Linked DNA regions of Homo sapiens: regions 1, 2, 3, 4, 6 and 7 are each reported to be linked to region 5. The links are microRNA targets in miRTarBase. Many come from high-throughput screens and were not tested one by one. Region 5 holds a microRNA gene; each other region holds the end of a gene's coding sequence.
What was found. Region 5 holds the annotated microRNA hsa-miR-4713-5p (UUCUCCCACUACCAGGCUCCCA, at 2,303-2,324, opposite strand). A microRNA usually pairs through its seed, bases 2 to 8, with sites in the 3' UTR of a target mRNA and lowers its output. Matches are read on the target gene's strand: a 7mer-m8 pairs with bases 2 to 8, a 7mer-A1 pairs with bases 2 to 7 and ends in A, and an 8mer does both.

Region 1 (4,075 bases), not on the chromosome of region 5:
AGGAGGTGGAGGTTGCAGTGAGCCGAGATCCAGTAAGCCCACTCTCTCTAGCCTAGCCGACAGAGCCAGATTCTGTCTCAGAAAAAAAAAAAAAAAATTAGTACAGAAATCAATGAAATTGCAAACAGGAAATCAATAGAGAAAAGGACCTAAACCAAAAGTTGATTCTTTGAAGAGATAATTAAAATAAATAAACCCCTAGCCAGGCTCTCTAAGAAAAAAAGAGAAATGAAACAAATTATTAATATCAAAAACAAAAGAGGGACATCACTATTGATCACCAGTAATTCCCATCATTCCCTCTTTGCAGATCAACATGTACCTGTTGTCACGCGTCCTGTTTGCCCTGAGCCGCCTGGCTGTAGAGAAGGGCTACATCCCTGAACCCAGGTGGGACCCGTTCCCGCTGCTCACTGCGGTGGTGTGGGGGCTGGTGCTGTGGCTCTTTGAGTATCACCGATCCACCCTGCAGCCCTCGCTGCAGTCCTCCATGACCTACCTCTATGAGGACAGCAATGTATGGCACGACATCTCAGACTTCCTCGTCTATAACAAGAGCCGTCCCTCCAATTAATGCAGCCCTGAGGTGTCTGGCTGTGGCTCAAGATTTGGCCCCATGCAGACCCTCCCAAAGGATACTGCCTTCTCAAGATCATAGGCCTCAGACTCCAACTGGTGTTATCCCAGGGTTCCGTTTGCTGAAGTAAAAACACTGATTTTAAAATCCCAGTGGGTACCTTTGTATGGTGGCACAAGTGGCCGAATCAGGCTGAGGAATCTACGGCTTGGTTCCAGCTGTGCAGCTGACTTCTGTGAGACTGGGGCCAGCCACACTACTCTCTAGGCCTCAGGGGTCAAGGAGCTCAGAGGAGGGCCCTGAGGTCTCTTTCCGGTGGGTATGTTCATTCTTCAACTGTTCTTATGTCACAGAGGGCTCCTTGCTGGTGGGCAGTGGGTTGTAAATACTTTTTAAAAAACACTAAGTTCCTTATCTCAGATGCTGTTCTACTGGAGAAGTTCTAGATTCCCACTGTCCAATAGAAACACGTGAGCCATATATGTAATTAAAATGTTTCTAGTAGCTGCATTACAAAAAAGAAGCCTGGGCACTGTGGCTCACTCCTGTAATCTCAGAACTTTGGGAGGCTGAGGCAGGTGGATCACTTGAGCTCAGGAGCTTGAGACCAGCCTGGGCAACATGGTGAAACCCAGTTTCTACAAAAAATACAAAAAATTAGCCGGGTTCCATCACCTGTGGTTCCAGCTGAGGTGGGAGGATCACTTGAGCCTATGAGGTCGAGGCTACAGTGAGCAAAGATCACGCCACTGCACTCCAGCCTGGGCGACAGTGAGACCCTGTCTCACCAAAGAAAAAAAAAAGGTGAGATTAATCTTCACTATATATTTTAACACAAATTTCTAAAAGTTATTTCAACATATAATTAACATCATTAGATATTTTGTACTCTTTTTTGTATTAAGTATTCAAAATTGGGTGTATATTTTGCCACCCACATTTTCAGGACCCAGTAGCCACATGTGGCTAGTGGCTGCTGTGACGGGCAACACAGATATGGAACACTTGTATCCTCACAGATTATTCTAGTGGACAGTGCAGATCTAGAGCTAGAGGACATGGGTTTGAGTCCCCACTCCCCCACTGTGTAACCTTGGGGAAGGTTCTGGACCTCTCAGAGCCTCAATTTATCATAAAATGAGGATAATCATAATGCCGTGGTCCTCACTGGACTTGTGCAACTACCACTGATGTGCTACTAATTACTTTCATTTAGTGCATTCATACTTCCACTTGGGTGTTTTCCACATATTATTATTATTTTTTTTTTTTAAGTAGCGACAGGGTCTCGCTCTGTCACTAGGGCTAGTCTCGACCTCCTAGCCTCAAGCAATCTTCCTGCCTCAGTCTCCCAAAGTGCCATGATTACAGGCATGAGCCACTGCCCCTAGCCTGCACATATTATTTTTAAACCATACAGTGGCCTTGCAAATGTGTGTTTTCGTCCCCATTTTACAGATGTAGAAACTGAGGGTCAGGCCAGGTGCAGTGGCTCACGCCTGTAATCCCAGCACTTTGGGAGGCTGAGGCAGGCAGATAACCTGAGATCAGGAGTTCTTGACCAGCCTGGCCAACATGGTAAAACCCCATCTCTACTAAAAATACAAAAATTAGCCAGGCATGGTGGCACGTCCCTGTAATCCCAGCTACTGGGGAGGCTGAGGCAGGAGAATCGCTTGAACCTGGGAGGCAGAGGCTGCAGTGAGCTGAGATCGCACGACTGCACTCCAGCCTGGGCCACAGAGCGAGACTGTGTCTAAAAAAAAAATAAAAAAAGAAAAGAAAAGAAACTGAGAATCAGAGAGGAGAGTAACTTGCCCAAGGTAATACAGCTAGTATAACAGCCGAATCAAGATTTGAACTCAGATTCGTCTGATTTCAAAGCCCATGTTTTTTCCAGTGCCTTGTTTCAAATTTAGAAACCTAAGCCATGCTATGCAAATGTTAGCTCATTATAGGATATGGGCCAGAAAGGGGTACACATTCAAATGCCCATAGGGGCCTACAATGACATAGTGCTATGCGATGAGGAGTGATGGGGACATAGGGAACTGGAGACTTGTGTACCAGTCTGATTTTTTCTTTTTTTTTTTTTTTTGAGACAGAGTCTTGCTCTCTCGCCCAGGCTGGAGTGCAGTGGCGCGATCTTGGCTCACTGCAAGCTCTGCCTCCCAGGTTTACTTACACCATTCTCCTGCCTCAGCCTCCGGAGTAGCTGGGCCTACAGGTGCCCGCCACCACACCCGGCTAATTTTTTGTATTTTTAGTAGAGATGGGGTTTCACCGTGTTAGCCAGGATGGTCTCAATCTCCTGACCTCATGATCCACCCACCTTGGCCTCCCAAAATGCTGGGATTACAGGTGTGAGCCACCATGCCTGGCCAAGTCTGCTTTTTTCGAAACCACGATCCTAGACCAGGCACGGTGGCTTGCACCTGTAATCCCAGCACTTTGGGAGGCCGAGGCGGGTGGATCACCTGAGGTCAGGAGTTCGAGACCAGCCTGGCCAACATGGCGAAATCCTGTCTCTACTAAAAATACAAAAATTAGCTGGACATGGTGGCAGGCACCTGTAATTCCAGCTACTTGGGAGGCTGAGGTGGGAGAATCTCTTGAACCTGGGGGGCTGCTGTGAGCCGAGATAGTTCCATTACACTTCAGCCTGGGTGACAGAGTAAGACTCTGTCTCAAAAAAAAAAAAAAAAAAAAAAACACAATCCTGGACAAATCAAACAAGTCTCCAGGAAAATCTGGTCCATGGGCTACCAATTTGAGACCATTGGTCTGGTAGATACACTTTCATTAATATACTTACTCCATCACTCTTTCTATATTTTAGAAGTTACTAGTAGAAATGTATGCAGGAGTCACTGGAGACCTTATTAAAATGCAGCTTCTGATTCAGTGAGCTGGGGTGGGGCCTGAGAGTCTGCATTTCTCCCAGGCTCCCTGGTGCTGCCAGTGGTGCTGCTCTGAGTAACAAGGGGGTGGGGAATGATATGGAGCCGTCCATTATTATCCCATCTGACAAATGAGTCACAGAGCCCTTAGGTAATTGAGGTGGGATCAGTCTGATTCTGTAAGCTGTGTTTTCAGCCACAACATTTACTGCAAACTTGGAGTAGGTAATTATGAAGTTCCTTTAACTTGCTGTGGAGGTTGAATGAGCTCTAGAGTAAGGGGTCCGCAACCCCGGTACCGGTCCATGGCCTGTTCGGAACCAGGCCACGCAGCAGGAGTTGAAAGGTGGGTGAGCTAGCGAAGCTTCATCTGTATGTACAGCCACTCCCCACTGCTCACATTACCACCTGAGCTCTGCCTTCTGTCAGATCAGTGGTGGCATTAGATGCTCGTAGGAATGCAAACCCTATTGTGAACTGCGCATGCAAGGGATCTAGGTTGCATGCTCCTTATGAGAATCTAATGCCTGATGATCTGTCACTGTCTCCCGTCACGCCTTGATGGGACTGTCTAGTTGCTGGAAAACAAACTCAGGGC
Region 2 (4,000 bases), not on the chromosome of region 5:
CATCAAAAATTTTAGAAGTGTTCCTTGGGGATGAGGGTATTAGTTCAATAACCTTTTTTTTTTTTTTTAACAGAACAACTTTTTATTTGAACTTATGTTTAGTAACAGTATGTCTCATATTAAGACAACTTTTGGATCTTTTTTTCCAAATGATCTCTAGAACATTACAAATTTTATTTTCTCCCCTAGGAATGCCCAGAAAGAGGATCGTGTTCCAGTGCTTGAGGAGTACAGAGAGTACAAGAAAATTAAAGCCAAGCTTAGGCTTCTTGAAGTTCTTATAAGCAAACAAGATTCTTCAAAATCCATATAAGATACGTTCCTTGAAAATTCATATCATAAAGTCAGTTGTATTCCTTGAAGCTATCATCGTGTGTACTTGGCTGGTACTTAAATTCGTTTTGTCAGGCACTCAGAGAATCTCATTTTGTACTTGGTTGTGGTGCCACTAAACAAAACAAATGATGGGAGAGTAAGTAGGCCCTCTCAAGGGAGCGTAAGTGATGTTCCATATTAACCACAGACTGTCCTCTCCACCTTTAGCAAACATATGGTTTACTTCATTGTTTTGTACTACAGATACATCCTTTTAGCAAAAGACTGGAATTTTATCCTTTCAACTTCAAGAACTTTGGAAATGCAAGCTTTTTGTTATTACCAACTTTTTGTTTCTCATTACTGAAGAAAATTGGAGGAAAATCTTCATACTGAATTCTTCTGTTGCCTTTTTCTTACAGAATGACTGAAAATTTGAAAGAAAAGCCTATAAAAGTGCACATACGCAACTGTGTTCTCTGTTTTCCTAGAAAACCAAAATCAAACTGAGATTTCAAGTCGTACTATGGAACACCTTTCTGTTTAATTCCCAAAGTGACATCTTCTCACAGGTAGTATGTTAGTAAAATTTTGCAATTCGCTGGTCACACAGCTCCCGGATGAAGATAACAGTTGGTAGACCAAAAGGTGACCTCGCTTAGTATATTGAAAACACACACCACACATCACACACAGAACTGAATCATACCACATGCTGCCTATGGGACTTCAGTTACTGTTTCCTGAGTTACTGTTTATCCGCTGGCAATGGTGTGATTTGTCTGGATCAGATCCGCGCTATTCCCCAACCCACCTCCAGATAATGTGAGAAAATAGCCATGTCAGTATGTAGGAACTCTGATGGTGCTCAGATTTGTGTGTTCAATCAATGGGCTTAAATCAGCAAAATATTATGCCTAAAGTAAATCTGTTCTTAACAAGGGCTCTACCACTGCATTTTCACATGTACCTTCAGGGGGTTATCTTTTTTTTTTTCCCCTCCTATTTTAATCAGCAAAATCCATACCAAAACAACGACAACAACGCCCTCTTAAGGGACCACCCTTTGGTCAATCATAACATGCTGTTTAAAGCAGCTGTTTACAGGATGTGTAGTGGTATGCCCCTTGTCATATACTCTTAGCATATCTTTTTTTCCTTTGGCTTTGCATGGCTTTTCTTCAGGTACTGTCTCGGTATCATTCTGCTAATCATTGTTACAGAATGGTGACTTCATTTGTGCTAACAGTACAACAGCAGATTTGGGTCAGGCTTAATCTAAGTGTTAACTTTTTTTTCTGGTGCTTTTTTGGATTGATGACTGTCTCACTTTGACTATACCCATGTTTTGCATGCAATGACTCATGCATGGTTTTCTTAACTAGCTAATATTAACAATTTATTCCATATAAAAATGGAATTTTGCAACATCCTTTAATAAGGTGAGGGAAGCATGAACCTCAGACTTCTGGCACTATTACATAGTAAGCACATGAAGTAGTTTGATAATAAATAGCAGTTCTAGTACTTCACATTTCACCCGTGTGTGCAATGCCTTTTTCTGGGGGGTGGGGGGTGAGGGAAAACCTGGTAGTGAATGTGTAGTTGGGGAATAAAGAAAAGCACTAAATCCTGCCCTTTTTGTGTGGTTTCCTTTTGATACAACTAGGTTATTCATAATGTATACCTAGAAAAGTGAAATTGAAAATACCAAAAGATGTATCATTTTTATTTGAATCCATCATGCAGTGTACATTTCAGATAATTTCCTTCAGTCTCCAGATAGGAGTGTATCCAAACATCTAATTTTATGTGCACTGTGTATCTTATATGAATGTTTTATTTTATATACCACATGCAAAAATGTCCATATGCACTATTTAAATGTTTTAAATAATATATTCCTTCTTTATAATGCTAAATCTATATGAGTACCATATTTTTATAAGTCAGTGGTCTGACTGGTTTCATTTTAGAATTAACAGCTGCTTCAATATGTTATTCAATGTTAATGTTTGGCTGTGAGTAGAATATGTAAAAGTGGCATGGCAGCACTTATGCTCTGTGACAGTATTGTGTGTCATAGTTGAGCAGTAGCTGGTAGAATTAGGCAGTTGGTGATAGTTTTACTTTGGTACAAATAAAAACTGTATATCTATATACAAATAATATATAGATATATATGTCCACCAGTATAATGGCATTGCTGTGTCTGGCACTTCATTGTACAGACTTTTATAATAAAAGAACTTGAAAGTTCTAAGTCATTGTAAATGTATGTTTGTTTTTCCACTGGGCTTAAAAAAAAAAAAAAGACCTCAAGTGTTCCCTCAGCTTAGGCTTTGTTTAAATGATCCCACCCAGGGGCGATGGTAGGGAACAACAGGGTCACTAAACTATTTGGCTGGCTACAACTCTGGGAAATGGTAAGACAGGGAAAGGCCATGTTGTTCATTCCCTTGTGCAGATCTAGGGAGAAGCCGCAGAGAGAACAGTTAGCATTTCTTGTTACAATGAATTATCCTATTAAGAACACTGGATGTACAGTCTCTTAAGAGAAGAGCTTGTCCTGAGGAAGGTGAGTAGTAATCTAAAAATGTCTTTATATTTGAGTTTTAAAATTCAGGAACTATTGAGCATCAATGTGGAAGTTGAGTGCTGAGGTCAAATGATGTTGCTTGGGCTAAGAGAACATATGGCTATCGTAGGGGGGCTTACATAGCCTAGAAAAATTAGAAGAGTTTCTCTCCAATTTCCAAAATGCCAGCCACACACAACTTTCCAACCCTCCAAATAAGGCTGTTACAGCATCCTCATTTACACTTTCCAAACATAACTTATGACAGTGATACGCCTACCCTGCTCTGTATTTTATTTTTGGGAAACCTTAAATGCATTACACCTTAGAAATGGTCTAGGTAAATTTCCAGTTTGAAGATGTTAGTGAGATTTCTGTAGGTGGCTGGGGAGTTTGTTCTACACTTTGGCTTTTTCCAGAAGGCTTCAAATTCTAAAGAATGGAGGGAGGTTACTTTACTTGGGTCTTATATAATGGTTTCCCAGAATCCTAAGCCTTTATTAATTTATCTGTGGCCAAAGGAATTCAGAACATGGTACCTGACGCACTTGATAGCATCAATAGTTTTTCTACTCTGTAACTATGAGAAAACTGTCTTTCTCTACCTACTGACTGAACTACTGGAGACCTGCCGCCTGAACTAGAAGCATTTTCTTGTACTTTCACTTTTCTAGAATTTGATAATAAACCTCATTATAAAATCCTTTGTACCAGTGTGTGTATACTGGAGGCTTGTCATAATATGCATGGATTGTATAGTGAGTCCCTGTCAGAGGCACTTCATTCTGACCCTAAGGATAGTTTGATGATAGGTTGTTGAGTACTTTTTAAAGTGTGCCTGAAAAGGGCACAAGTTTATGAAGTAATACATGAATAAGAAATGCTCAATGGGCTGGGTGCGGTGGCTCACGCCTGTCATCCCAGCACTTTGGGAGGCCAAGGCGGGTGGATCACGAGGTCAGGAGATCGAGACGATCCTGGCTGACACAGTGAAACCTCGTCTCTACTAAAAATACAAAAAATTAGCTGGGCACGGTGGCGGATGCCTGTAGTCCCAGCTACTCGGGAGGCTGAGGCAGGAGAATCGCTTGAACCCGGGAGGTGGAG
Region 3 (4,077 bases), not on the chromosome of region 5:
TGTCCACCTCGACCTGCTCTCCCTGAGGCTCCAGGCTGCTCAGCTGCCCCACACAGGGGTCTTTGGGCAAAGTAAGACCTACCTACTCCTTCCCTCCTAGAATCCTCCCACTGCACTGAAAACCCCTTCCCCAGGCCCATAAGCCACTCATCTCTCTTCTTAACCCCCCAAATCTCGCTCTCCCAGCTTGTCATGGCTACAGGGCAGCTTTCTTTCCATCCTCTACAAGACTCTGCCAGTTTCCCCCTTTTATCACTGCTGAGTCACTGCGGTGAGCTCCTCACCAATCTCCTACTCCCCAGCATCCCCCCATTCCCTCCTCCCACCTTTATCCCAACCAGCACGTCACTGCAAATACCTACCTGCCCTATCCTTCCGCCAGGTTTCTCCTGCCCCAGTGACCGGTCCATCTTGCTGCCTCTCATCATCGGCCTGATCCTTCTTGGCCTCCTCGCCCTGGTGCTTATTGCTTTCTGCATCATCCGGAGACGCCCATCCGCCTACCAGGCCCTCTGAGCATTTGCTTCAAACCCCAGGGCACTGAGGGGGTTGGGGTGTGGTGGGGGGGTACCCTTATTTCCTCGACACGCAACTGGCTCAAAGACAATGTTATTTTCCTTCCCTTTCTTGAAGAACAAAAAGAAAGCCGGGCATGACGGCTCATGCCTGTAATCCCAGCACTTTGGGAGGCTGAGGCAGGTGGATCACTGGAGGTCAGGAGTTTGAGACCAGCCTGGCCAACATGGTGAAACCCTGTCTCTACTAAAAATACAATTAGCCAGGTGTGGCGGCGTAATCCCAGCTGGCCTGTAATCCCAGCTACTTGGGAGGCTGAGGCAGAACTGCTTGAACCCAGGAGGTGGAGGTTGCAGTGAGCCGTCATCGCGCCACTAAGCCAAGATCGCGCCACTGCACTCCAGCCTGGGCGACAGAGCCAGACTGTCTCAAATAAATAAATATGAGATAATGCAGTCGGGAGAAGGGAGGGAGAGAATTTTATTAAATGTGACGAACTGCCCCCCCCCCCCCCCCAGCAGGAGAGCAGCAAAATTTATGCAAATCTTTGACGGGGTTTTCCTTGTCCTGCCAGGATTAAAAGCCATGAGTTTCTTGTCACATGCCTTTCTATGCCTTCCATGGCTGGGTCTCAGGGAGCCGGAAGCAGCTGCTGAGGAGGGATGAAAATGTCAGTGTGTGACGATGCCTCATGGGTTCACCCCCCAAAGCCTGGCACAGCTGGTGTTGGGTCTGCCGTGCCTCCCTTCCTTCCTCCTCTTGGGGCCACTGGCTGCTCCAGTTCCCCATCCGTGGCAAGCCGGTAGAGCCATTCATCCCCGCAGCCTTCTTCCTGACCCTCGTACAGTTTCAAATGCAGCAGACAGCCAAAGCAATGAGTGGGGGGCTGTGGAACTTCATTCCCAAAGGCAGCGCCAGTGGCTCCTGAGCAATGAGAATGTCCTGTCCTGTCCACCATATTCAAGGCCAGCAGAAGAGCCCGATTAAACCCTCGCAGCACCTGGCATGCTCCTATCCCACCTACAAGGGGTTGAATCAAGAAGGAGCAGTGGGTACTCTGACCTCCACTGGGGGCTCCTGGGAACAGCATGCCCCCCACACGGGGCCACCTGCCAAGCCTAACTTCATGCCCCCAGTACTTGAGATGAGGAGTGTCACTCTCAGGACAGCCAAGGTCCAGATTCCAGAAAGGACCTCCCAGATGGCCACAGCCTGCACCAGCAGTGAGCGCCAGTCCCACCCATTACAGCTGGCTACGGCGCAATCCCTGGGAGCCAGGATGAGCAGCACCCCCCAGCCGTAGGAGCCCCAGGAGGCTTCCGGCCTCCAAGGCCCAGAGACTGCCCCACAAGGGCAGCCCTCACCTGGCAGGGCCCCAGCAGCCCCACCTCTGCCTGCAGACATCCGTGTGACCTTGTAGACTTTGGAGGGGGGCCGCCAAAGGGCTGATCCACAGCGGAATGACGCACGGGTGGGCACCGTGGGTTGGCGTCCCGGCGGTCGGTAACGAAGCACAACGCCCCCACCAGGTAGTCCAAGGTGCCCTTTCCCAAGCAGCGCTGCAGGGTCCACTCGGCCTCGCCGAAGTCTCTGCCCAGCACGTGGTGCGCCCTCGGGCCAGCGGGGAGGGGGCGAATCCCGGGACTGCCTCGCCAGGCCTCGGCTCCCCGGAGACTCTTGGGGGTCTGGGCCCCAAGGGTGATTCAGGTGCTGCCCTTCCCCGACCTGGGCTCGCCTCCCCCACCTCCTCCTCTGCTTCACTGTCCCGGGCCCAGCAGTTGCCGGCGCACTCATGCTCCGAGGCCTGAGCCAACCGGAGGCGAGACAAGCACAGGGCCCTGCGCGCAACCCGGCACCTAAGGAGGCCTGCCCGGTGCAGACTCTCCTGCTCCCACCGGCGCCCTTCCCTCTAGAGACGCTGAGAGAACGGGAGCTAGTAGCGCCCCCACCCAACGCCACCTCGGAGACTCCGGCTCCTTCTCTCTCAACTTCGAACAATACAAAGTGTGCTAGGAGAAGACAAGATGGCGCCCAGCAGGAGGAGCGGAGAAAGGCAGGGGTGTAAATCTGGCTTCCAAACTGGAAGCGTCAACAAAGGCGTGGGAGGTCTAACCGCGCAGGCGTGCAGCTTCGGCAAGCTTTACAATTCCAACAGCGCGTCCAAAACGTGGTCCCTGACTGAGACTTATTTTACGCCACTAGAGTGAGGGTGGGTAGCGTCAGAAAGAGCGGGGCACGGGGCGGGCCAGCTTCGCCGCGGGAAAAGAACGGGAGGCGGAGTGTCCGCAGCGCGCACGCGCAACGAAAGTCAATGGCGGTCTGGAGAGACTGGCGGAAGCTAGCTTTGCAATATGGCGGCCGAGGCGGACGGACCGCTTAAACGGCTGCTCGTGCCGATTCTTTTACCTGAGAAATGCTACGACCAACTTTTCGTTCAGTGGGACTTGCTTCACGGTGAGTTTTATTCAGCATCCGATCCAAGTCCTACTCGAGTGACCGTGGGCCCTTAGTCCAAGCCTTGATCGGCGACTAAGTGACGGCAGTGACTGCCGCCATGCCGAGCTGGACGGAAGTCACTTCTGAGAAGGGCGGAAGTGTCTCGGGCTCCTTAGAGGGAGGACACCATATTAGTGCCAGTGGGGAAGTCACCGGGTGGAATTACTTCTTTGTGGAGTTTGTGCTGTAGCGACAATGAAAAACGAAGAGTCAACTTTTATAAAACAAAATAAAAATTAAGTCAAATCATGCCAACCTTTATTAGATCGCTAGCAGGGTTAAACTTAATTCAAAGCCCCTGATGAATCGGGCCTTCATTGCACCCCCAAAGGCTCCGCCACCCTGATTGCTTTCTTTCCAGCCTCCAGGTTTGCTCATAGTCTGATTTCGGAATAATTTGCCTCCCTTCCTTTTTCTGATTGCGAGACAGCTCCACAAGGGTCACCGTCAGACCGTTTGGGGAGCGTCAGTCTGCCCCTGTCAGTTCATGGTACCTCTCTTGAGCTCGTGGGGCACTTTGTTTTAGCCGCATTCATGACCCGTGAGAGTCAGACTCCCACTAGACCAAGTTCCTTGAGGGGAAGGCTTCAAGGCTAGAGAAGTTGTGGATGGCCAGGGCATAAAAGCAAGCCTTGAAAGGGTAAGGTTTAGTCCCTGAGTAGGGGCCAGGGACAGTCAGAGTGTTCAAGAAAGAGTGGTATGGGGCGGGCACGGTGGCTCACGCCTGTAATCCCAGCACTTTGGGAGGCCGAAGCGGGTGGATCACCTGAGGTCAGGCGTTCGAGACCAGCCTGGCCAATAGGGCGAAACCCCGCCTCTACTAAAAATACAAAAAATTAGCCGGGCGTTGTGGCAGGCGCCTGTAATCCCAGCTACTCGGGAGGCTGAGGCAGGAGAATCGCTTAAACCCGGGAGACAGAGGTTACAGTGAGCCAAGATCGTGCCATTGCACTCCAGCCTGGGCAACAAGAGTGAAACTCCGTCTCAAAATTAAAATAAGAAAAAAAAAATGGTATGAAGACTTGTCTTTGGAGAGAGAAGACATGTGAAATGGGGCACCCATTG
Region 4 (4,077 bases), not on the chromosome of region 5:
AGAGAAAAAGCTCAGTAATTCCTTGAAAATGAAAGTCTTTTCCAAAAACGTCTCTAAATGCGTCACACCAGATGGCAGGACCATATGTGTAGGGGACATTGTTTGGGCCAAGATATATGGCTTCCCTTGGTGGCCAGCCCGTATTCTTACTATAACTGTGAGCCGGAAAGATAACGGCCTTTTAGTCCGACAGGAGGCCCGTATTTCATGGTTTGGGTCTCCAACAACATCTTTCCTTGCTCTTTCACAACTCTCCCCCTTTTTAGAAAACTTCCAGTCACGCTTTAATAAGAAGAGAAAGGGCCTGTATCGCAAGGCTATCACAGAGGCAGCTAAGGCTGCCAAGCAGCTGACCCCCGAAGTGCGGGCTTTGTTGACACAGTTTGAAACGTGAACATGGGCAGTAAGGTAGGCAAGACCATTGGAAGTCACCACAGATTTTCTAGTCTAGTTAGGAATAATTTCTACAAAATAGCGTGGCCAGATTGGAGAGAGAAGTTGCACTCAGTTGGCTGGCTTTTTAATACTTACCTTATAGCCATTTTTAGACTGAGAGCTTAAACTGAACATATAATCAAATTTTGTGTTAAGGAAGTGAGATTTTAGCAGTATTTTTCAGTTTTGAAGTTCGAAACCATCCCAAGGCATAGGAGCCATAGCCTCAACTGAAATTGAATTTTTGTAGGGACTGTTAATTGCCATTTGTACCTAATACTGTATATATACATATATATACGTGTGTGTGTGTGTATATATATATATCCGTGTATGTATATATACACACATATATATGTATATATACACATATATATATATGAAATACAGCCTGTCACTGTGTGACACAGATTGCATATTTGGGATTGCAATAAGGGCTTGGTGAGCTGGGGGAATAGTGGATATTTAATGACTACTTGTTTTTTAAATAATGAACACTTAGCCTTTCTATGCGCATAATGGTGTAAAAGTTAGATGGTTAGGTGTTTGACAAACAGATGGTTGCAATTCAGTTACAGACTGGGGAAATAGCCCAGTGTTTGGGATTAAAACTGTCAAGACTGGATAGGTGTTAGTCATCACTGTCTTTCGTCCAGTGGGGATTTAATAAATACTTTCAAGCTTCTGGTTTGGGAGTTTAGATAGGTTTGATTTTGGATTTGTAAATAGTGATTGCTAAATTTGGTCAGATTTCTCCTGACTGGCTGTTCCTAAATTCTTAGGATATGTCCCAGTAAAATTATACTTTGTGAATTAATTGTCATATGTGTAATTGTTGCATTTTGGATGTACCTAATTTGATAATTAAAACAAAATAATTTCCGTTTAAGGTATCTGTTTGCAGGTCAGAAAATGAGAAAATGTAATTGTGTAATGCTCTGAAATGTAAAAAAAAAAAAAAAAACCAAAAAAAAGCTGTAAATAAAATCAACTAAATCCAAATTATTTGTGTGTGTTTCTCAAAAAGCTTTGAAAAATTTCAAGATGGTAGAAAATTATTCTTTGTAAGAGTGTTTAGAAGAGATGAAAAATCAAACTTTTATTTTGCTATTTGCCCTATCAGGGAATATATTATCTGAGATAAGAAAACTTCAAATAATGAGAGATGAATCAGTATATTCTCAAAATAAGATTTTGTAGTATAGAGGTTTGATAATGCTTTTAGATTTGATATCCCCTTCCTGCCAATTTCTCATAAATGTGTGAATTTTAATTTTTAGTCTTAATATTTCATCACATGCTTCCTTTTTTTACATTCGGGTAATTACAACCGGTCTCTTCTGTTTGGTTTTCTGCCTCATGTATCACTGCTTTTGGGGCTAGTAACTTAGCTTACTATTTTTCTACATGGTCCATCTGTCCCTAAGATTTGATTTCTTATTTTCCATTTTTAGCTTTGTATTAGTAGTGAGAAATATATCTGATTGGCTGTGGAGGCAAGTTTATCTCAAGATTTTTAAAGTTGCTTTCATACTTTGTGTCTTAACTTTTGGATATCTAATTTCAATACTTTTAGAAATTTAAAATTTAGCAGTTTTTTGTGGATTTCTAAATCCAATTTGAAGTAGTTACTATGGAACTCATAATGAAAAGATTAATGGAGATTGAAAATCAATAGTCTTGTCAGCTTTCTTAAGGTTATTGACTGATTGCGAATTTTTGCAGAAGCAAGTAGAATTTCTTATGGGGAACTCACTCAATGCTTTTTGATTATAATAAACACACATTTTGAAAACATGTTTCACTTGAGTAGAACATATTCTTTCCTGCAAACAGAAACAACTATACTTAAAAAAAAAATTCTTTGAAATTCACAGTGTGGTTGAGAAGTTATAAGGAACTATCCTAAAAGATTTTCCAAGTATTTGTTTCAGATTAATGAACTTGTTCAATCAGGTGTTTTTAAAAGTTTGAAATCTAAAGTTCAGAAAGACTTAAAAGTCATCAAAATATGTAATTCCAAGGCTTTGTGTAATGATCTGGGTGAGTTTTAACAGTAGTTTGAAGTAGACATTACTGATATGGTCAAGTGCTTGGTAAATGTGCTGTTGTGGCATAAACCAAATTGGATTTGTTTCAGAAGCCATGGGGAAAGAGAAGAAAAAAAAAACATGATTGTTGAATATAAAAATAACAATCAGTTTTGTAGAACACACCTTTGAGGAAAAGGTTGAGCATATCACAAATGATATGCCAAATGACCCCTTCGTTTTAAACTGGCAGTCTGGCATATTTCATTTGCAGTTTCAGTAGGGAAGCAAGTTTTAAAGAATCTCTCTAATCTTAAATGTGTATTCTAAACTCTAATAGCTGAATATTAAAAACTTTTATTCCAATGGAAATGTCTTAGATAAATTTGTCCAGTATCTACTGCAGATGGAGATAGAGTTGAATTGGGTAGTTGTAGCCACTTTATATTTCTCTTTGAAATGATAAAAGGCACTTATTCTTGATATGGAGATAACAGAAGTGGGTATTTTTTCCCCTTGGAGTGGGAGTAAACTGGCTTAGACCAAATCTGCGGCTTAAGTAAGAGTCGTGGCTAAAACAAAGGATTGGCCAGGGGAGAAACCAAGTGAAGGAAGAGTTGTGAAAGCTAAGAATGTCTTTATTTCTGGAAATTCTCAGAAATGTAAAGCATCAGAGTATTTTTCCCTTTTTACTTTCTAGAATTTATAGACCAGGAAGCTGACTAATCATTTGGAAGGAACATCCATTCAACTCTCATTTACAGATGTGGAACCAAAGACCAAACAATTATCTGTGAGAGGCCAGGTGCGGTGGGTCATTCCCATATTCCTAGAAGTTTGGAAGGCCAAGGTGGGATGATTGCTTGAGGCCCGGAGTTCGAGACCACTCTGGGCAACATAGACCCCCGTCCCCGCTGCCATCTCTGCAGAAAAATAAAAACTTAGCTGGGCATGGTGGCGCACGCCTATAGTCCCAGCTATTCGCCTGTATCCTAGCTACTTGGGAGGCTAAGATGGCTTGAGGTCAGGAGTTGGAGGCTGCAGTGAGCTATGATCACACCACTGCACTCTGGTCTGGGCAAGAGTGAGACCCTGGCTCTGAAAAAAAACCCTATATATCAGTGTGATAGAGAAACTGGGATTCACTAGTCTGGAGCCTTTTTGCATAACGTGGTGGTGTGTCCCTAGATGGTTTTGATGGGGAAAAAAATCTGTAAATAGTAATTGTAGATTAGTACTAAGTTGAATAGGCAGGAATTTTGATGTGAAAACAGACTGGAGGCAAAGAACAGGGAACTGATACTAAAATCAACAAAATGAATATATCTTCACTAGTGAGCCTGAGTATCTAAATTGCAACATATTAAATTGAGTTACACTCCTATTTAAGCAGGTTGTACTTTTCTAAAAATTGCTTATGTTTAAAAGGTCACAAGTCTAGAATAACTGAATTGGGAATTGGAAATACCTTAAGTCTATAATTTGTATCTAAAATTAGGTTTTCCCTTTTAAGTTGTTAATTTTCTATGGTTTGTGCTGCATGCTTTCACTTTTATTAGTACTTACAGCCAAAGAGATGGGCAAATGTCTAGAAAAATTAATGTTTTGATTC
Region 5 (4,077 bases):
ATGATAACAGACACAAGGCTGACTTTTTAGTTTCGACTTATATATATTAAAAAAAAAACAACCACAAAACTGCTCAACATAAGCACAATGTGCTTTCAGGAGAGAATCTCAAAGGACCTTTCCAGTGCATTTTCAGTGCCCTGCACCCAAGCATTAATGATTATTTAAATGGTAGAATAACATAAAATGATGAAACAACTGGATAAATTCAACTATGTTGTAAAAATTTTGTAGTTGACAGAAATCAGTCTTTGGACTTTAAGATCTCATATAGATCAGAGGAGAAATATAATGACATACTCCTTAAGAATCTGATGAAAGTTATGGCCTTTCTCCACTAGAATGTGCCGATTACAATATTTTATGCAGTGTTTCAAGGAATACACAGAGCCCCCAATATCCAGTTAGAAGCCCTGGCTGTGAATCTAGAATTTTATTACAGGTGAAACCCAGCACAAGTCTGATTGAGAGCCATTGCAAGTCACAGAAACTCTAGGCCCTGTCTAAGTAAAGGCAAACCTTGGAGTATGTCATCTGCCACTGAAAATGCATTTAATGATGACTCACTCTTTCCTCACTATACAAGTTTGTTCAACCTACACCTCTTCAGCTACAGACTACCTACCATCCCTGAAACTCTGTTCTGAGAGTAAAGGGATTACAAAACCTGGCTGAAAAGACAGATTCAATGGCATGTTGAAAAACACAGCAGAACCAGCACATCAGACTGTAAATTGATTGTCTTGCACAGGATGTTAGCTGCTCTTCGAATGAGGTTCCTGAGTGGCACCTGAGCCTATTGCTGGTGGCATCCTATTCTGCCTGTTCTCTCTTTCTTCCTCCTTCCCCATTCCTTTCATTCTCTTCTCCCTTATTCTTCCTCTGCAATTCTTTTTTTCCACACTACCGTTGGCCGGTCCCTAGGGATACTGTTTAATCTGGCCCATGGTACAAGAGATTTTAGATCTTCATTGAAGTCACTAGAGATGGCCTGAGTGAGTCACTTTGAATTCAATAGACAAACTGATGGAAGGCTCTGAGAAGACCTCAACGATGCCCAAGAAATGTGTTCTTACTGTAGAAACTTACTATTTTGATCAAAAAAGTCATTTTGGTCAAAAAGGGGAGTTGGGAGATTGCCTTTTTGTTTTGAAATTGATTTGGCTTCAAGGGAAGAAGATTGCCTAAACAAAACCTGCTGATGAAGTCACAAAATGACTCCACCTCTGGAATGAGCTTTATTTTCTTATAATTTGGCAAGAAATTTGGCTTTCAATTGGGAATGCACGTCACTCTACCCACTCAAGGGCAAGATGATAAGGTTCTATCAGACCAAGCGTCTAAAGGAACCTGAGACTCTACCAAGGTCAGAAATGCTGCAATTCAAGCCAAAAGATCTTTCTTGGGCTTCCTTGTTTTGACTTGTAACCATAAATTAGTCTTGCCTAAATGTCTGATCACATTATAAAACAGTAAGTGAATCTGTACTGTACAGCACCCTCTGAAGCAACAGGAGCTATAGATGAACCTTTTAGGGGATTCTGTAATTTTTCTGTCCCTTTGATTTCCACAGGACTCTAAATTGCCCCCTCTGAGGTCAAGGAACACAAGATGGTTTTGGAAATGCTGAACCCGATACATTATAACATCACCAGCATCGTGCCTGAAGCCATGCCTGCTGCCACCATGCCAGTCCTGCTCCTCACTGGCCTTTTTCTCTTGGTGTGGAATTATGAGGGCACATCCTCAATACCAGGTAAGTCAGTCATTTATTTCTGTATCTAAGGAGATTATTTACTTGGGATTTTGGTCCATGATGGTAAAGAAAATTTTGCAAAAGGACAAAAAGCAAACCTGGAAAGATCTCTGAAGACTATGTCTGTGTTAGCAAATGAGGACTTGGGAGAAAATTTTCAGACCAATTATCTGCACATTTTAAATGAAAGCACTTAAAAAATATCTTAGATAAACCCTTCCACTCTGTGCTGTGCTTTCGTAAAGTAGACTTGGCACAAGTACCCTTTAAAACAAGCTCAAGATGGGGTGGAGTAAAGTAAAATTCCAGGGTTTTCTGGTTAACTTTTAAAAAATAGATTGCAATTTTGCTCTGAAGGTGAAAATGTCTCTGGAACATCTTCTTCACTGCTTTTCTTCTCCCTTTCACTTTGTTTCCGCCATGCCCCCTCTTTGTCTTGTATTTATCCCTTCTCTTTATTCCACTCATCATTTTCTCTTATTCTTGGGAATGTGGTGATAGTGGTCCCCATTTTTCTCCCACTGTCTGGATCCCATTCGACCCTTATGGGAGCCTGGTAGTGGGAGAAAAATGGGGACCACTCCAGTGCTCTTGGAACATCATACCCCGGGAGAATCTTCAACAAGATCTGTGGTTCAATCAAAAGCAGAGAATAATATAATTATTCAGATAATCCCAATAGAAAACCCCACCCTTCCACCCTTAAAGCCGCAATGATCAGATATCAGATTAATTCAGAATGACTTGAAATTTCAGACTGCTTCTTTAGGTTTCAGTGAAAATGCTTCATTGCAGACACATCTGTTCCCAATTCCATAAGATATCCAATGAGACTTTAAGAGCATAGTTACACACTGGTAAGTGTGGTGGGCCTAGTCTCAGTGGGATCAGAAGTGGGAGCATGGGGCTAGCACAAAATGCTCTGTGTCTGGATTCTTTTTAACATTCCAGATAATTGCCTGTCTCTCTGCCTGATTCAGCCTGATATTTTAGATTACTTTAATGCCCAGTTTAAAGGAACATTTAGTTAATTTTGTTCTCTGCTCCCTGACAGGGTCAACTCTAGAGAAGGGAGGCTCAGAGCTAAGGGACAACTGTTTCATGGTCTTTAACTTGAACTCTGTTCCCCAGTGTGGCCCTTCCTCACTGGATTTCTCCTCTCCCAAGGGGGCTTCTAGGTCAGGGTCAGTGAATGGTCGGGGTGGGGTGAGTAAGTGGTGGGGGTGGAGAGCCTTTTTTTCCTCTTCTTCCCTTCATAGGCTCAGGTGCTAAATTCCAATTTGTCTGTGTTAGCAGACAATCAGGCCAGGAGAGTCCAGCATTGCCCACGCAGCATTGCCCATCCAGTGAGCCACAGGTTCTCAAGCTTTTAAGTCTATGTAAGAACACCCAGCAGGTAGGAGCTTGTTAACATTTCTGTTCCTGGACCCTGCTCCTGACTTTTTGACTCAGACTCTTCAGGCCTAGAAACATGCATTTTTAAAAAGTCCCCGCAGATGCTTATGTTAATCAGCACTGGTGGAATTTCCTTGGACCCTTGACCAAGGAGGTCAGCCTGTTAGGACAAGCCTGAGAACCAGCAGCCCTGAAGCTCTGGATCAGTGGGAGAGTAGGCAGCACCTCACTCTGTCCACCATTTCTGGGCCAGGGCCATCATGCTGATCCACTGACAGTCAGATCAAGTAGCACAGTGATTCTCAGCACTGTCTGAGGTAGGAGCTCAGCTAGTTTGGGGTTGCTATTTTTAAAAAAATCTCCCTTCCTGATTTTTTATGAGCAGCCAAGGTTGAGAGCCACAAATATGAGCCTAACTCCTTCATTTGACAGAAGGGGAAACTGAGACCCAGGGAGTTGATCTGCCTTGCCCAGACAAAACACTATGACAAGCATGAGAAGCCATGGAGTTCAAACTTGTCGTTTTACAAGTGAATGGTTAAAGCCCAGTGAAGGGAAATGGCTTGTCATCTCCCCAGCTGGACAGAAAGTGGGAATGTAGGGGGACCACCAGGAAGTCCTAAAGCCCAGGTTGATGATCATTTTGCTAGACAGGTAGTTTCTAGTTTCACACTTTCCTTTTGAAAACAGAAGGTCTAGTTAGAATCCACTAGTAGCACAGACTGTGAGATCCTATGGTTTCTGGTTGGGGGAGGGAAGATAAGAAAATTGGCCTTGTTTGGGGTGGCTTTTGCTGATCAATACTCCTGAGCTCCTGCCAGCTCCCTTTAATCAGTGGCTCTCTAGGTTCTTGGTTTTAGAGGTTTAGGGGAAGCACAGAGTCAGGAAAGCTCAGGAACAGTGAAAGCTGGAGGGACTTATAATGA
Region 6 (4,068 bases), not on the chromosome of region 5:
CATGTTACTTCACACTGAGAAAGCTTCATTGGGAAACCAGAAGTGGCAGCAGGAAGTCTCCATTGGTGGAGACTTTATGTTGTTTTTCAAAGAGAAGGTCTCTTGGTCAATGCCCAGATCTTATTGTGGTACCATACTTGAGTTATGTGATGAGAGTGACCAAGGGTATGTAAATTATGTGTCCCATCCACTCTTAGTTTCTTTCTTTTTATTTGAGGCAGGGTCTCAATCTGTCTCCTAGGCTGGAGTGCAGAGGTGCAGCCTCTACCTCCCAGGCTCAAACAATCTTCCCACCTCAGCCCCTGCAAGTAGCTAGGACTACAGGTGCACACCACCAAGCCCAGCTACTTTTTGTATTTTTTGTAGAGATGGGGTTTCACCATGTTGCACAGGAGTCTCGAACTCCTGGGCTCAAGCAATCCTCCTGCCTCAGCCTCCCAAAGTGCCGGTATTACAGGCACGAGCCACCATGCCTGGCCCACCCATAGTTTCTTCGTATGGGAATGTTGAGTGATTACAAGGGATAGGAGGAAAGAAGTTGAGAAGTAAAAGATTAGGAAGGACTACTAAAGTAGGTGTTCAGGAAGAGACTCTTCTTTCTGTAACTTCTGAGAATCGAGCTCTGTTGTTTTGTCGTTTGTTATAAAGCATTAGAGTGCAGGGGTGGCATTTGGCAGGATCAACCTGGTATAGGGAAGTGGGCAGCACTGATCGTGGTGGTACAGCTCTCCCTTGAAATCTGGACCCAAGCTAATGTTGTGCAGCTGGCTTTGGGCAGGGCCTAACACTGTTCACTGCATGTTTTGTCTGAAAGGAAGGAATCTCTTCTATTTTTCTTCCTATCTAGCATTGATGTTTATGATCGTTCTTTTAAAATCCGTATTTTCCACTCTTCATAAAAATGCCACAGGGCTGCCTGACAAATTTGCATTAAGGAATTTTGACATAATTAGCACCTGGCTTTAGTTGTAAATTATAGTCAGATAAATATATAAAGAGAAGGAGCATTTAAGCAATCTTTGGCCAGCAACTGTATTTAAAAATATTTTATTTTTTTTGAATAGGTGATACATATGGTACAAAATTCAAAAAAATACAAAAGGAGATACAGTGAAAAGTCTCCCAATCCTGTACCTATCCACCCTGTCACCCTCCCCACAAACCACCATTGGTTCTAAGAATTTATCCTGCAGATGTAATCCCATAAATTAATGTGAAATATGCACAAGAATATTCATTACAGCATTATTTATAGCAAAAGACAGGAAACAATGGAAACGTCTGTCAGTGAGGGACTGATTAAATAAATTATGGTTTATCCATTCAATGGAATAGTATACAGCTGTAAAATGAAATGAGGCAGCTCTAATTGCAAGTATAAAAAAAAAGCAAAGTGCAGAACAGCATGCATAGTATGCTATTTGTATTTTAAACAAAGGAAATATGTATATATGCATACAATATCTCAAGGTTGGCAGGAAGGTGGAGATTGGAGTGTTGTGGGGGCAGTGGGAACAGCAGTTACGAAGGTGTAGTGCCAGCAGGATATATTTGGGGGATGGTAAGTTCTCCGATGGTGAGGTATAAGGCGGAGTGGCAAGGATGAGGTGAACAGACAACCGCTTCTCTTTCCCCATTCTTTAGACAAATAGTGTTATGTTACATGCTGTTATGCAACCCTCCCTTTTCCCCTTAATTTGTTTTGGATATCTTTCTTAAGGAATTTAGAGCCACCTTTTTTAAGGGTTCCATAGCAATTAATTGTTTCTAATCTTTAGCTATTACAAATGATGCAGTAATAACTTCTTACGTATGTCATTTTATATCTGGTGAAAATATATCTGAAGGTTAAGTTCCTAGAAGTGGAAACTACTGGATCAAAGAGTTAGTGCTTTTATAATTTTGAAGGACATTGCCATATTGTCCTCTTCAATATGTACTTCTGTCAGCTGTTATGAGAGTACCTATTTCCCACATGCTTGCCAGCTAGGAGTCTTAACAAGCTTTTTGATCTTTGCCAATCTGACAGTTTTAAAAAGGATCTCAGTATGGTTTTAAGTTGCATTTCTTTTATTATGAGTGAAAGAATATTTTTACATGCGTAAGAGTGACTTATTTTTGTCTGCTGAAAACATCTCAATTAGTATAGGGACCTAGAGCAAATTATTTAAGCTTTCTATGTCTCAGTTTCCTCACCTGTAAATTGAGAATAAACAATAGTAAGTAGGATTATTGGATAATTAAATGAAATGTATGTATGGCACTCAGCACAGTGCCTGGCACATGGCAAGCATTCAATAAGTTATGTGATGGCTAACAATCAGAGGAGCAGGTAGGACAGGGCAGATTAAATTAAGAAAGTAGCATTCACTTCCATGCTCCAGTCACATGGAGCCTTGTTCATTTACATTGCCATTCATCAGAGAAGTACGAAGTCAGAGCTTTCCTTGTCTTTTAATAGTAAAGAGTCATTTCCCATTGGAACCCATCATAGGCTATCAGCAGAGCTGGCCAGGGAGTAGGCACAGCCTCATCTCTAATATTTAGACTTAGCCAACATGGTAAAGAAATTTAATCTGATATGAAATAAAAACAACAGAAGAGACCAGATGCACATTTCTTTATTCCACCATGGTTCTGAACTCCCAGCTAGTTTGGGTTGGAGTGAGTCTCTGCTTGTAAACTCAGAGGAATGCCTGCCATCGTTTTCTGAAGGGAAAGGGCAGGGGTTTCTGAGTGGAGGGGAAAAACAACATTGGAAATCTGGCTGCTTCTGAACAAGACCACACTGGAAAATAGACTTTTTACTTTTAGCACATCAAACTGGTTTTCACAAAAGGAGATCCCAGAAGAGGTTTGTTTCCTGTAAGAAGCAGTGTTTATGTAATAGAGGTCTTTGTAGATGGGTGCTGTATCCCATGGCAGCCCTTGCTGCTGGTGCCCACAGGCTATCACTGGGCGGATTCAGCTACTGAATATTTTCTTTAGACGTATAAAGCCTTGGCTCCCCTTTCTCATCAACTCCACGTATTTTTCATCATGTCCTCTTGCTGCTTTCTCAGGCTCTTTGTTCTTCTTCATTTGTGTCTCTTACATTCAACAAGCTAATATCAGCCTTGCTTCTCTGAGTGAAGGGATCTTCTGCCACTCCTTGGGGTCAGAGAATGGGCTACAGGATGGAGGTGTGGCAAAATCAGGGCCCAGAACAGATTGGCTGAGTGGTGGTGATGGTTCTTAGGAGGGGGCTCTGGAGTCAGTCCCCAAGCTTCCCCAAATCCTTTCTTGCTCCACAGATTCTGAAGGACCTCCCTAGGGCAGATGTAGCCTCTGTCCCAGTTGTGGGATCGTCAGGATGATGGTGGATTGTGGCTGGAAAGGGGTGTCTGCAGTGTGAGGCCATGGGGCCTTGCATGCTCGCACAGCTTGGGAGGGTGGATGAGGGCCATCCTTTGGTAAGCATCCCATAGCAAGGCCAGGAAAGGTGGTGGACAGGGCCTCATGCGGTGGCTGAAGCATTAAAGCGATTGGTGGTGCTTGAGCCAAGCAAGGGCATGGAGGCAATGACCGAAGCTTACAGCCAGAGGCTAAGCTGGGAGAGATGAAAGCAGGCAAGGCTGATTGGAAACCTCTGGCCTGATGTCACGGTGTCTTCCCAGCTAGGAAATCATCCTCAAGGCCCCTGCCTGTGACTGGAGGCCATTTCCAGGTAGTTGCCACACTGACCCCTGACTGCTACTCCTTGGCAGTGCAGTGGGGGGGCCCTGCCTCAGCCACATATCCCGGGGAGCAGTGGCAGCGGTAGGAGCCCTCTGTGTTCTCGCAGTAACCATGGACACAGAGCACAGCAGGCCCGTTCAAGTCATCACACTCATTCACATCTAAGAGGAAACAAAGGAGAGTGCTGTAGGGAGCCCAGGTGCCTCTGCTGGCTGCCTCCACCTCTCTGGTTAGTAAGCCCTGGCCACTGCCCTAGAGTGAAACCCTAAGTGTGACAGCCAGAGGCTGAAGTCACTTCCCAAAACCAAGCAACTCAAGGACAAAGCAGGGGGCAGCAAGCTCATACCATGC
Region 7 (4,077 bases), not on the chromosome of region 5:
TCTCCAAGGAGCAGCTGCATCTAGAGTTCTAAGGACTTAGCTTCTCCTGTACTCCTTTTAAATCACAGATAGCTACAGAGAACAGCACTTCTGTTGTTCAGTCTTTATTTTTCATAAGGGAAAAAGCCCACTGTGGCATACCTGCAGCAAGTGAAAGTGTAAATACAGCTCCTCTGTCTGCATACTCCACCCTATCAGAGCCCTGGGCTCTCCTCACAGCCCCCACCTTTCTCTGTCCCCAAAGGCTGTACCCAAGATGTACAGACCTAGTAAGAAATGCTTTTAGAGTGTCAAGTGAGTTTTTTCTTCTTTCGGACATCTCTATTAACAAAATCCTAAAGAAAATCAATGGATTCCTATTTCCTCATCCATTCATACCATCAGATCCTTCTCAAATTGACCACAGAATCAGTGGCCGTCACAATGAAATTGACTGCATATGAAATGAATCTGAAAATTCCATTTATTAAAACACATACATTGTCCATGTGGGATGAAAATGTGCACATCACATTCAGGTTTTCCTGCTTTAACATTTCTGTAGTTCTCTCTTTGAAACACACACTCCACAGATCTTATATAGGAAAAATGTGAACAACTTTTGGGCTGCAAAACATTAATGCATACATAACAATTCATCATTGCCAAGAGCAGCTAGAAGCAAATATTAAGGAAGAAAGACAAAGAAGTATAAAAATTCCTAAAGACAGCATGCTTTATTTTCTCAAAATTCCATATGTGACTATGAGCGTATGGAGAAATCGTTTGATTTTTAAATTTATTGTTTTGTCCTTGGTAGGCAATCTCCTTCAAATATTATTAGCAAAATCAAACATAGATCAAAGTATGTATTTGCATCTTCTGATTGAAATTAAACAGTACTTGGTTTCAAATGTTTTAAAAATAACACTTTTTAAACTGGAGTTGATATTGAGGATCATGTAAAATTATTCTTTATAGACTTTGCATTCTAAATATGAAGTTTATTGTTACTACTTATTAGTTAATTCCACGGCAGATTTTCATTTCTATCGAATATATTATATGTAGAAACTAGGGCCTTAAATAATTAAGCTGACTTTTCCTATTAGTTATTCCTTAAGATAAAATTATGCTGGTGAAAATGACTGTTGAATTTCTCAAGAAATTAAGCTCTATAGAGGCATAAGTAATCGAAAGACTTTTTCCCCTGAATAAGTACAAATACCAAGAAGCCAAAACTCATATAAAGATTTTCGTATTATAATTCCATACTGTAAGACATAAAATTATGAAAAAGCCAAAACATTTTCCTTAAAATGCTCCCTAGAAATTGTAATTCCATCTTAATTGCTCCAAAGATCTAGATTTACATGGAAATATAAAGAGTCCTTCTGAGAAAAGGAAATGCTGTGAATAGTGGAAATCGTCTGGGCCTTCTAATGATGCCTCAGTCACCACCAAAGAGTGTTTTATTCATTCATCCGTGTTTTCATGTGACCACATACTCAATTCATGTTTTGGCCCATGTAAAAACTGTGATATGTTTTAGCTTATTCCATAGTGTTACTAAGCTAATTGTACAATGCTGTAGTTTAATAAATACTCTGCTGTTTTTTTCACCCCTAAATCTTCATGGGCGTCCTAACTGTAACAAAAACCCCACAATTTGAACAGAAGAACAGAAGTATCTGGTTACAGAAGTGCATTCATACATTTCACAAATGTTTCAGTATCCTCTTCTCCCCGACCCCAGCATGAGCTTTAATTGGATGTATTTATTCTTTCACCAGCATGCCCATGAAGGAGCTAAGGAAAACATTTACCAAGTCTGTTTCAAAATCTGTCCTTGGCATATCAAACTTTTTCTCTTCCTTTTTCATGCTTTTTTTTTAAAAAAAAAACAGGAGAAAGCGAATAGAGAGGAAAGAGACAATAAAATTAATTGGGAGATGGAGATGATATTTGGGGATTTGAAAGCAAACAAGATGTAAGAGAGGCCCTCTTTGACTGAAAATGACACAGAAAAAGGTGATCAAGTCTTCCAGGGCCTGCTGTTACTGATGGAGACTACAGCTACAATGAAAAATTACTCTCACTACCATATCTTGGGGAAGGAGCGCTCTAGTTGCAAGGAATTTGTAAATAAAGGCCGAGAGACTCTAACAAACAAGATGGAGAACAAAAACAAAGATTCCATTAAAAAATTTGTTAAGTGAAAAACCAAGACCATCTCAGTGGACAAAAGAGCCAGAACTCTTCCTCGTAGAGCCGGCCGTGGGGACCGCACCTGCCGCCCAAAGAGTGGCGATTTGAGGTCCTTCTCCCTGGAGAGTGAATAGCTGGAGTTCTGAGAATGGTCACCTTCTCTGGAGCTGTGGGTTTATTTCTTCTGATACTTGAACAAAGGAGGGCCATGGTTTTCTTGTTAAGAGCACAAAAAAATGTTCTTTTAATCTAGAATGTCCATGATTCAGGGAAAGAGGGAATTTGCTCATACTCATGGCAAAAGCATTTCCCAGCTCATGGTGAATCCTTAACTCTCCTGCTTGGTGACAGCTGTGCTGCCCTGGGTCCTGGATAAACCAAAATGCTTTGGATTCTGGAAAACGTATTGAAGAGGCATTTATACCACTATTAACTAGGAGGTATTTTAGGTGTGGCTAAGGCTCTGAAGTAATCTCAATTTTCAAAATACTGAGATTTTCTTCCCTCTCCGGGGTCTTTTCCCTCTCATTTCCTTTCCCAGCTTTAGAGTAAAACAACAAAACTTCTGAATGGATGTAACATAGGGACATTTTCATGCAATATTACTCAAAAATTGTCACAAATATATGAAAGCACCAGTCACAACACAGGATTTACTTTTACTTGCAGAATCAAAGCTATCATGTACACATGTTAGGAATAGTGAAAAGAGAACACAGACAACCGGCATTTTTTGTCGTTGTTACCATGAGGATACACCACGGGGAACATCTCCCTAAACATTTTGTGTGATCATTCTTGGAGTTCAATCTGATAGACCAGTCCAGCCTTATCTCCACACTACTCTAATGGGGAGGGGTGGAAGGAGGGGTAGAGGAGAAGGAAGAAAGAAAAAGAAAGGCACAGTGACTATACATCAATGCCATTAAACCGAATTGCATCTACACGGGACAGCTCAGCTTATCAAAGGGTATTCTAAAGACAATATTCATTCCAAGAAGGTCACACATATCTTACCTCAGTACAGCTGTCTGTTTTAATTGTTATTTTTCAAAATATGAAGCAGAAACATGAGGATTTTGGGGGGGGGGCTGGGGGATAGCAGAAAAGAAGTGACACCAATTTTATTTTTATATATTCCCCTCCTCCAGGCAGTTCGTCAGAATCAGATCTCTTAAGTCAGGATGTGGATCGGCTTGCATTCTCATAAAGGGGACCAGATCTTTAAACATGCATAGCCTAGAGTTTCCAGAATGGTTCTCCTCGCTCTCTTCAAATGCCGTGGACTAGAAAGGTGCCCACTTCACTAAAAACTCTACATCAATGTCCCAGGAGCCCGGAGGCTCTTCAGGCCCCTCTCAAAGACTTAAAGGATGGCACAGAAAAACTTCTTCTCCCTAAACGGGTTTTCTGAAGCCGGAACAGGGGTCAGGAGGGGGTCTTCCTTGGCATGTGCTTCACAGTAGGCCATCAAATCTGCAGCTGCCTTGGACACCTGGAAAGGGAGACAAAAACAACCAACACTGGAGTCTGGTACAGTCAGTCAAGGCCCAAGGCTTTAGAGCCCAATGTCCTGGCATCAAATCCTTGCTCCATGAAGCAAGATACTCAGCCTCTAAAAGCTTCTGCTTCCTCATCTGCAAAGAAGAAAGTTGACGACACTGACCTTACAGGATTGTTGCCAGCAAGTCTGGGACTAGGTTAAGGTGAGTGAGGCACTTAGGGTGCAGAACCGAAGGAGGCACTCGCTGGCAGGGGCATGCAGGTGTCAACCCTGCACTTCCATAGCCCCGCAGGTGGCTGTCTCCTTCATTTGTTTTTTTTTTTTTTTTTTTTTTTTTTTTGAGATGCAGTCTCGCTCTGTTGCCCAGGCTGGAGTGCAGTGGCTTG

Region 1: the mRNA of PXMP4 is a reported target of hsa-miR-4713-5p. Seed matches in the 3' UTR shown: 8mer at 3,178-3,185.
Region 2: miRTarBase lists FAM13B as a target of hsa-miR-4713-5p. Seed matches in the 3' UTR shown: 7mer-m8 at 466-472.
Region 3: the mRNA of CD68 is a reported target of hsa-miR-4713-5p. Seed matches in the 3' UTR shown: 7mer-A1 at 975-981.
Region 4: the mRNA of PWWP2A is a reported target of hsa-miR-4713-5p. The part of its 3' UTR that is shown has no 7-base or 8-base seed match.
Region 6: miRTarBase lists LTBP2 as a target of hsa-miR-4713-5p. Seed matches in the 3' UTR shown: 7mer-m8 at 1,119-1,125.
Region 7: the mRNA of GNG2 is a reported target of hsa-miR-4713-5p. Seed matches in the 3' UTR shown: 7mer-A1 at 2,301-2,307 and 7mer-A1 at 1,720-1,726.

What each region holds. Positions count from the first base shown.
Region 1 is chr20:33,704,205-33,708,279 of GRCh38, reverse strand. PXMP4 (peroxisomal membrane protein 4) reads left to right here. Exons shown (of 4, transcript NM_007238.5): 4 at 311-4,075. The coding sequence ends at 574. Among named protein-coding and RNA genes, the nearest start is that of PXMP4, 14 kb to the left of the region's middle.
Region 2 is chr5:137,936,538-137,940,537 of GRCh38, reverse strand. FAM13B (family with sequence similarity 13 member B) reads left to right here. Exons shown (of 24, transcript NM_001385994.1): 24 at 190-2,578. The coding sequence ends at 313. All of the region lies in intron 14 of PKD2L2 (polycystin 2 like 2, transient receptor potential cation channel), which reads right to left. Among named protein-coding and RNA genes, the nearest start is that of PKD2L2, 49 kb to the right of the region's middle.
Region 3 is chr17:7,580,996-7,585,072 of GRCh38, forward strand. It overlaps CD68 (CD68 molecule), which reads left to right. Exons shown (of 6, transcript NM_001251.3): 5 at 1-71; 6 at 383-1,116. The coding sequence ends at 516. It overlaps MPDU1 (mannose-P-dolichol utilization defect 1), which reads left to right and starts at 2,857. Exons shown (of 7, transcript NM_004870.4): 1 at 2,857-2,970. The coding sequence starts at 2,868. MPDU1-AS1 (MPDU1 antisense RNA 1) reads right to left here and starts at 3,097. Exons shown (of 2, transcript NR_136402.2): 1 at 2,923-3,097; 2 at 979-1,168. RefSeq lists enhancers at 1,681-2,554, 2,506-2,555, 2,555-3,429, 2,666-3,195, 3,430-4,077.
Region 4 is chr5:160,088,699-160,092,775 of GRCh38, reverse strand. It overlaps PWWP2A (PWWP domain containing 2A), which reads left to right. Exons shown (of 2, transcript NM_001130864.2): 2 at 1-1,437. The coding sequence ends at 394. Among named protein-coding and RNA genes, the nearest start is that of PWWP2A, 29 kb to the left of the region's middle.
Region 5 is chr15:51,240,447-51,244,523 of GRCh38, reverse strand. It overlaps MIR4713 (microRNA 4713), which reads right to left and starts at 2,334; the gene lies at 2,260-2,334. It overlaps CYP19A1 (cytochrome P450 family 19 subfamily A member 1), which reads left to right. Exons shown (of 10, transcript NM_000103.4): 2 at 1,574-1,756. The coding sequence starts at 1,612. All of the region lies in intron 1 of MIR4713HG (MIR4713 host gene), which reads right to left. RefSeq lists cis regulatory regions at 560-566, 1,225-1,246, promoters at 474-630, 1,244-1,273, 1,217-1,478, 619-1,596, 1,399-1,656 and silencers at 1,307-1,334, 1,362-1,391, 1,237-1,398.
Region 6 is chr14:74,497,152-74,501,219 of GRCh38, forward strand. LTBP2 (latent transforming growth factor beta binding protein 2) reads right to left here. Exons shown (of 36, transcript NM_000428.3): 36 at 1,032-3,878. The coding sequence ends at 3,733. Among named protein-coding and RNA genes, the nearest start is that of ISCA2, 5.4 kb to the left of the region's middle. RefSeq lists an enhancer at 2,953-3,948 and a silencer at 3,635-3,929.
Region 7 is chr14:51,966,164-51,970,240 of GRCh38, reverse strand. GNG2 (G protein subunit gamma 2) reads right to left here. Exons shown (of 4, transcript NM_053064.5): 4 at 446-3,682. The coding sequence ends at 3,554. Among named protein-coding and RNA genes, the nearest start is that of RTRAF, 21 kb to the left of the region's middle.